2 linked regions of the Homo sapiens genome follow. The protein of the gene in region 1 interacts with the protein of each later gene in a pairwise test. Each region holds a gene or a part of one and is shown in the gene's direction. Other genes may lie near its edges.

The links.
Region 2: the proteins of SEMA5B (region 1) and C11orf58 interact in a two-hybrid assay, tested with the Homo sapiens proteins (one large-scale study listed by BioGRID and IntAct).

The regions. Positions count from the first base shown.
Region 1 is NC_000003.12:123,024,676-123,029,186, reverse strand, and holds the start of SEMA5B (semaphorin-5B), read left to right. Parts: upstream 1-1,423; 5' UTR 1,424-1,723; intron 1,724-4,511. UniProt on the Homo sapiens protein: May act as a positive axonal guidance cue.
Region 2 is NC_000011.10:16,741,345-16,745,154, forward strand, and holds part of C11orf58 (small acidic protein), read left to right. Parts: exon of another isoform or gene 1-2,323; intron 2,324-3,256; coding exon 3,257-3,340; intron 3,341-3,810.

The DNA.
Region 1 (4,511 bases):
TTCTGTTGCCCTAGAAAGTCTATCTTTGAGATCTTGCACTGTTTCTCTTTTTACAGTGTCTCATAAACTCCCTTCTTGGATTCAGAACCACCCTTTCTTTCCCATTATCCTGTCAAACTGCTTCTTGCCATGGTCCAGGGGTAGGAGGATGGCAGGCAGGAGGTGCTTCTCTGGGGCTCTTAGTGTCTCAATTCTTCTGCTTTATCTGGGTTTTCCTTTACCCAGAATTTTATTATGTAAAATGCTTCACTCAGACTTTGTTCTAATTATCCAATTTTTGGCATACTCTAGAAAGTCTTTTGATATTTTCCTTCCTCCAACTTATCTATTTTTATTTCATAGTTCTCTTTGGTTATCTCTTAGAATCACACTTTCCTGGTTTTAATTTTTCAAATCCTTTGTCTTTCTCACTCGTTCTTAGGTCACCTTTTTTTACATTTTCAAATATATTTTTTGTTCAGCAGAGGGCTCCCTTCCCATCCCTCTTGCAGCCCGGGCAGCTAGGATTTGAAGCTTGCCCCTTGAATCTTTCTCTCCCGCCTTCTAGCCATCAGAAACACTAGATCACTTAAACTTGTAAACAATTCGGCCTCGCTCCTTGTGATTGCGCTAAACCTTCCGTCCTCAGCTGAGAACGCTCCACCACCTCCCCGGATCGCTCATCTCTTGGCTGCCCTCCCACTGTTCCTGATGTTATTTTACTCCCCGTATCCCCTACTCGTTCTTCACAATTCTGTAGGGTGCGTATTACTAACCCCAGTTTACAGCTGAGGAAACTGAGGCTTGGAGAGGTTCGCTCGGTATCGTACAGTTTGCAAGGTTAACCCTAATCCGGCCAGTTCTGGCTTTCCAGCCCAGCCCAGCAGCCTAGCCTCCCTCTCTGCCGCTGCAGGTTATAACGGCTCTCCCCCGTTTTACACGAGGTCCCTTCCCCTTCAAATCCACAGGCAGGAAGATCGTTCCGAACTGACGGGGCTGGGGAATGTGGGAGTCCGGAGTGGGGTTTGGGGGAGCTTCCTCAGGCCCTGAGTGTTGGGGTGGGCAGGCCGCGCCGATGGCCCTCGGGGATGTCACATTCGAGATGGGGTGACCGAGAACGGCAAGGCGGGATGTGGCAAACGGCGGCAAGTGCTCGGAGTCCTAGGTCTTGCCGCCGGAATGCCGGCCGGGGAAGGGGCTTCGGCCCACCGGGCTGGTCACCACACTCGGCAGGCCCGGGGCGGGAGTCGGCCGAGCAGCCGCGGGATGCAGGGCGCCCCCTCGCGCTCCTCCGCGCGCCTCGAGGCTGGCGGGTGCAGCGCCCGCCGCGGCAGGTCTGCTCCAGCCCCCTCCTCTTTTTCGCTCCCGCTCCCCTCCTTCTCTCCCTTTGCTTGCAACTCCTCCCCCACCGCCCCCTCCCTCCTTCTGCTCCCGCGGTCTCCTCCTCCCTGCTCTCTCCGAGCGCCGGGTCGGGAGCTAGTTGGAGCGCGGGGGTTGGTGCCAGAGCCCAGCTCCGCCGAGCCGGGCGGGTCGGCAGCGCATCCAGCGGCTGCTGGGAGCCCGAGCGCAGCGGGCGCGGGCCCGGGTGGGGACTGCACCGGAGCGCTGAGAGCTGGAGGCCGTTCCTGCGCGGCCGCCCCATTCCCAGACCGGCCGCCAGCCCATCTGGTTAGCTCCCGCCGCTCCGCGCCGCCCGGGAGTCGGGAGCCGCGGGGAACCGGGCACCTGCACCCGCCTCTGGGAGGTGAGTCCCGGGAGCCCCGGGCGCTTCCCCTGCGCGGGTTGGGGCTGCAACTTGCAAACTTCAGCAACTCGGGTGGGTATCGGGGTAGAGAGGTAGGGGTCCGGGCTCTGGCAAGTTGAAGCCAGGTAGGTGAGGCTGCGGGCGGGAGGACAGGGGGTCCCCTGGCTTCCGCGCCTCCCGCTGCCACCTCGGCTTGAGAGCCCTCATCGCTGCTGCGTTCCCGCCGCCAGCCAGCTTGGGTCCGGGTTGCACTGGGCCCTGCCAGGGCTGTGGTCGGCGCATCTGGGCTGCAGCGGCGATGGGGACCCGGGACCCAGGCCTGGAGAAGGAGACGGACGAGTGAGGCTGAGGGACGGAGGGACAGAGGTGCGGAGATGGAGGCTCAGAGAGGGCCGGCTAGTAAACAGCACTGAGGGAGAGTGCGGGCGGCGAGGCGCGTGGGAACGCGTGGCCCGCCCAGAGTGTGAAATCTCCCGCTCAGGGACGTCCCTGCTCCACCGCCGCCGCCTGCGGAGCCGCCGCCCGGATTCTTCCCAGACCCGCCTCCAGGACACTCTTGCCCTGACCAGGCCTGCGGAGCGTGAACTCTGCCCACCAGGCTCCAGGGGCAGTGGCTCAGGGCCCCGCACTCCCGGCTGGGAGGGTGGAGAGGGGTGCGGCAGCTGGAAGCAGGGACGCGAGCGGCGATTTCCCGATTTATGTTTCTCATGGTAATTTGTCTTTGTGGTTGGGGCTGCCCATTCACTTTCCGCTCACGTCCTGCGGGAGATCCAGCGAGGAGGGAGGGAGCGGGGGGCGCTCGGGCACAGAGAGGGATGCAGACGGGAGAGGGGATCGGGGACCCGCGCGGGGCGGGAGCCAAGAGGGAAGTGGTCGCCGGACCGGCGGAGGAAGAAGGCGAGGCTCGAGAAAACCCGGCCCAACGGAGCCGACTCCTTTGCCCACCGCAAACTTTAAACAAGGAGGAGGATCACCTGCAGCGCCGTTCTGGCCCCCTCCTCCCCGCCCCCGCCCCCCACCTCGAGCCCAGTCTTTGGGTAGTTCCGACTGCCCGCCGCGCCAGGCGGGAGTGGGCCGAGAGTCTGGATGGGGAGAGAGGAGCGCTGGATTCTGCCCGCACCCCTGCGATCCTGCCCAGGCTTTCTGCAGAGGGGCGGGGTGAGAGCAGCAGGAGCCGGGAGGGCGGGCTACCCTGGCATGCACTCCTTCCCGGCCAACGGAATTGGGACTGAGGGTTTGGAAGCTTGCCTGTGTCTAGACCTCACCACGATCCTACCTTCTCTGGCCCTAACCCCATCTTTTTCCTTCAGCCCCTAGTGAATCCGACCTCCTTCCGCTTTTCTCAGGCACCCCAACCCACTTCGGCCTCGGGGCCTCTCTCCACAGCCCTCCCTGCCTGCTTGCTCCTCGGCCTCCCCACTTCAGCTCATCTTTTTAAGCCTGTTCTCTTCTTGACAATCAGCAGTGGCCTCTCACCTTTTCTAAGCCGGGACAGATGACCTTGAGGAAGGGGCAAGAGGGGAACTTGAACCTTGTAACTGGACCTCAAGATTACGGAAAAGGGGGGCAGATTTGAAAGCAGCTTGGAAAGAAACAGCCAGTACCTTTCCCGAAGTCTAGATTTTCAACGGAGGAGGAAAGGAGATAAAATATAGGAGAGATGGGGGAACTTGCCACTTGGTCACTCATGGGGCGGTGAGAACTGTTCTGGGCCTTGGGGCGTGGGGGTAGACCACTCGGGGCAGGGCTGCCTCTGGCTTGCTGTGTTGGGAAAGGTGTGTGTAGGTGAGTGTGGGTTTCAGGGGGAGCTCTTTTCTCCATATCAACACCTATCACCACCAGTTTGGGAAGGAATGGCAGATCTTCCATCCCTTTTCTTTTTCCAAGCAGCCAGTGCCAGAGCCTTCCTCCTCCAAAGCCAACAGTAGCGACCATAATCATCACCGTGGACATCTAACACTGTTTAAGCACCTACTATGTGCAATGCACCATGCTAAATGCTGGTAGATAAAAAGAGGTACAGGGCCGAGCCCATGCCCAGAGAGGTTAGTAAGTTCACCAGTTTGATCCTGAGACACTTGTCTATGTGTTTGGGGAGGGAGAACATGGAGAGGAACATGCAGTGGCTGTACAGGCAGCAAGGTGCCTGATGACCCAAGGGTTTAGGAGAGGAAGGGTTAAAAAAAACTCGATGACTCAGGTGGGACAGAGAGCTGGGCTTATTGACTCTGCCCTGAGATAGGACAGCCAGCACCTCCTTTCCCACTAGGGAGGGGAAAAAGTTCCTTTACCACTTCTAGTGCCAGACTAGAAAACCAGAGAAGCCGAGAGGTCCAGCCCAACACTGTAGATTGCTACCTCCCCATTAGGACTGGAGGAGCCCCAGAAACTTTCTTGTCTTAGGATGAACTTCCTGGCTTGTTTGAAAGACCCTACAGTGGTCACTTCTTATTGAGACTCAAAGCTGGGAGAGGCCCTGGAGATTGTCCATGTCAGGGGAAGCACAAATTCAAATGCCTACAGAGGGCAGGCAGGTCACAGTGTGTTGATCAGGCAATTAGAGTGGCCCAGCTTATGGACAATTGGGAGTTCAAAGCCAAACTGGCCAAGTGAAATGATCCTAACAAAATCAATTAACAGCCTTTAAGTAGCCTGACCCCTTATATCTATAGATAAAGATATTAAGATTCTAAGAAGTGAGCTCATCTGCCTTGGATATACATGTTATCTTGTCTCCCTGTACCTTGGGGATTGACTGGAATATCTCATGGCCTGGTTCTACCTCTGA
Region 2 (3,810 bases), on another chromosome or scaffold:
CAGTTCTGTAGTAAAGGGTATTAAGGATGAAAACAACTTAAAAGTCGTTTCATTGGCTTGGAGTGGAGAAATGAAAGCTATCTTATAGGAAGTGGGAAGAGTGGGGAGGTAAATTTTAGTAACTGCTAAGGAACTCTCTTAAAATGTATAGTGCACCCACGTGCTTTTCAGAATGCAGCATTTGGGCAAGTACTCACTGTTGTACTTTAAGGCAGGGCTCTCCAACCCCTGGGCCACAGAACCAGGCTGCACAGCAGGACGTGAGCTGTGGGCCAGCCAGCAAAGCTTCATCTGTATTTACAGCCACTCCCCTTGGCTTGCATTACCACCTGAGCTCTGCCTCCTGTTGGCATTTGATTCTTATAAGAGCGTGAACCCTGGTGTGAACTGCACATGCGAGTGATCTAGGTTGCACACTCCTTATGAGAATCTAATGCCAGATGATCTGTCATTGTCTCCCATTACCCCCCAGATGGGACTGTCTAGTTTTAGGAAAACAAGCTCAAAGCTTCCATTGAGTCTACATTATGGTGAGTTGTATAATTATTTCATTATAGATTACAGTGTAGTAATAATAGAAATAAAGTGCCCAATAAATGTAATGCACTTGAATCATCCTGAAACCATCACATCCTCCCTCTCAGTGGAAAAATTGTCTTCCACGAAACTGGTCCCTGATGCCAGTCTGGTCCTGGAGTGCTGCTTTAAGGTCTTTGAAAAGAAGAACTGGCAGGACTTAATGTTATTTCCTTAAAACATTGGGATTAGAAGTTGTAGATGACAGTTATTTATATAAACACTGAAAATGTTTTTTAATAGAAGCAGAATCAAGAAAGTTGGTTTTTACACAATTTTTTAACTTCTATACATTTTTATAACTAGTTCATAGACCACTTTCATCTGTCTCATTTGATCATGGACAGTATGATGTGGAAAAAACACAGGATGGTCAGAGGATCAAAGGAAGTCACTTAGCCTCTCTGTGCCTCAGTGTCTTAAGACAGTCTTTTAAAAAGGCATCTCTTTATAGATAAGGAGTTAAAATTAAGTTAAATGTCAGATCCTGGCTTACAGAGCAAGTGATTTAGTGATTGTCAGAACTGAAGCTTCACCATTACTTTAACTATATTGAGCCAGAAATAGTTAAGAACTAAATGGCCCATAAAAATATATGAGGGGGGTCACATGGAAAAAAGTAGAGATTTGGAACTTAGGGAACCAAAATTATGAGAGCATATAAGCCCTTCCACTAATGAGAATTTAGAAGTGCAAATGGGTCCAGGTTGGTACAAATGCTTTAACTCTCATATGCCCAGGGGAAATAGTGGTTTTTTTAAATATTCTTTTAGTCTTTTACAAATAATTTTTAGAAATAATAATGGGAGATAGTGCAAAACAACTTTATTAGGAATTTTAATGTGAATTTAACAATAGCAAACCGAAATTTATATTCTTTGTTTTCCTGATTTTGATGTACATATAGTCATCCTTCAGTATGCTAAATGTGGGGGATTGGTTCCAGGACCCACCCACCTCTTTGGCAAATCTTGCATACTCAAGTTCTGCAGCCAGCCCTGTGGAACCTGAGAATAGGAAAAATCAGCCTTCCATATACTTGGGATGGATCTGCATTTGGTTGAAAAAAATCCACTTATAAGGGACCCTTGAAGTTCAAACCTGTCTCGGATTTGCATCATCAAAATACAATACTTGAGGAATTTTTGAAACCTATTGCTTACAATTTTGTAATTGTCATCCTTGCTCCATAATTGCAAAACATTTTTATTTTTAGATTATAAACTTAATTAGAATGATAAATTCGGTGAATATTTTTATTTCATTTTCCTTCCAGTCACCTTGTGTACACATCTGCCTTCACCCTTTGTCCATTTGCAACCAAATCAAGTAAATTTTGATGCATAAACATTGTAAAAGATGAGATAAAACACTCACACCTCCTTTTAGAAAATGGGATGATCCTGGCTCTTACTGTGAAATATTGCAAGATGAAGTCCTTCCTGCTGATGGCTCTCCCAGTGAGAGTACATTTCTTGTTTGTCTTTTTTTTCTTTTTCTTGTCAATTCTTGGGTGGGAGAAAAGCCTTCTAATATTTCCTCATCCAAAAACTCATAGTCTGAGATTTTTGCAGTTAATTTTATCATGATTAGTCTAGAATACGACTGCCTTTCATTTTGCATTCACCTTCTTCGTCTAATAATGATTAATGCCTTCTGTCAGTTTTTTCTCTTTGCCATTATGAATGGAAAATGAAAAATTGTGAATTCCCATCGGTGTTCAGTGAAAGCTAAAAGTAGACAACAGGTATGATGTCTTGAAAGATGATGATGAAATACTTTGGACAATACAATGAGAAAACTAATATCTTAAAAACTATTTAGTTATTTTTAGCATAGTTGAGAATAATGAATTATAAATAATGAATTATAAATAATGAACTATTAAAAACTATTAAAAAACAACAGTTTTTACATTTGTTTCAAAATGTAGGGAAAAAATACGCTCACTAGGATTCCATCATATTTCTTAGATTTATAAGAGTTCAGTGGACTCATTTGATAATTGCAAGATAGCATGAGTTTTAGTCTGTTCTTTTAAAAAATAAGTTTTCTCTTTGTTCTTTGGAAGACTTTTAAGAAAGAATAAAAGTAATGACATCTCAATCCTAACAAGTAACTAGAACTGCTAAAAAAAAAAAAAAAAAGGCAACTGAAAAGTTAAAATTTTCTCTCTTAAAAGTTAGCTCACTGATAAAGGCAGAATTTTTAACTTCAACTAACAACTGTGGCTGCCATCTAAGTTCAGAGTACTAGGTGCTCTAGGACCCTACCCTGCGAGGCAGTGGGTCTCAAAGTGTGGTCCCCAGATAAATAGCATCAGCAATCATTTAAGAATTTGTTGAAATTCAAATCCTAGAGCTCCACCCCAGACCCGCTGAATCTCTGGGGCTGTAGCCCTGCAGTCTGTTTTAACAAGCCCTCTAGGTGACGCTGATAGAGGCAAACTTTTGAGACTCAGCTCTGGCTGTAGGAGAACTAAAGGATTCTGCTGTGAGGTAATAGAAAAGGAGTAAATTTGAATGTGATGAATATGCTTAACTTCCTAAGCAAGAAAAATGAACGCTGTTTATAGTTACAACTGACAGGGGAAAAAAACTTGAGAGTTACAGGTAGACTTTAGATTTCGTAATACTTATTTTTATGCAAAAAAAATTTAATCAACCAATTTTTTTTCTAGCTGGGATCTAGCAATTGGGAGGCAGCAGACTTGGGTAATGAAGAGAGAAAACAAAAGTTCTTGAGACTTATGGGTGCAGGAAAGGTAAGCATCAGATGGTGTGCATTTTTACCTTTTCTGTGAAAATATTGCCATTTTTATGTATGCTAAGTAAGAAGGACTGAATATACTTGGATTCCATTTTCCTGTTCTGTGTGATTTCTTTTGGCTTTGGGAAATACATGTGGCCTAACCAAGCACATAAAATTTATATTATTTTTGAGCCACTTCTAGGATTCTCTGTCCGTATAGTTTGAAGACTGTACAGAGAAAAATTTGGTTCAAGGAGGCTGTATAGGAGAAAAGAGATGTCAAAGTTTATGATTTGCCATATGTTGGCCCAGTGGTTTGATAGAATATATTTCTTCTGGGTAGGTTATCTTGTGGGAACCTCTGGCCAAAGTGAAAAGGCTGTCATATTTTATAGCTCCCTCCAGCCCTTGAAGTAGTAACCAGAGGAATATCCTTTATCAAAAACTTAATTTTAAGACTACACTTTCAGAGATTATTTCTAT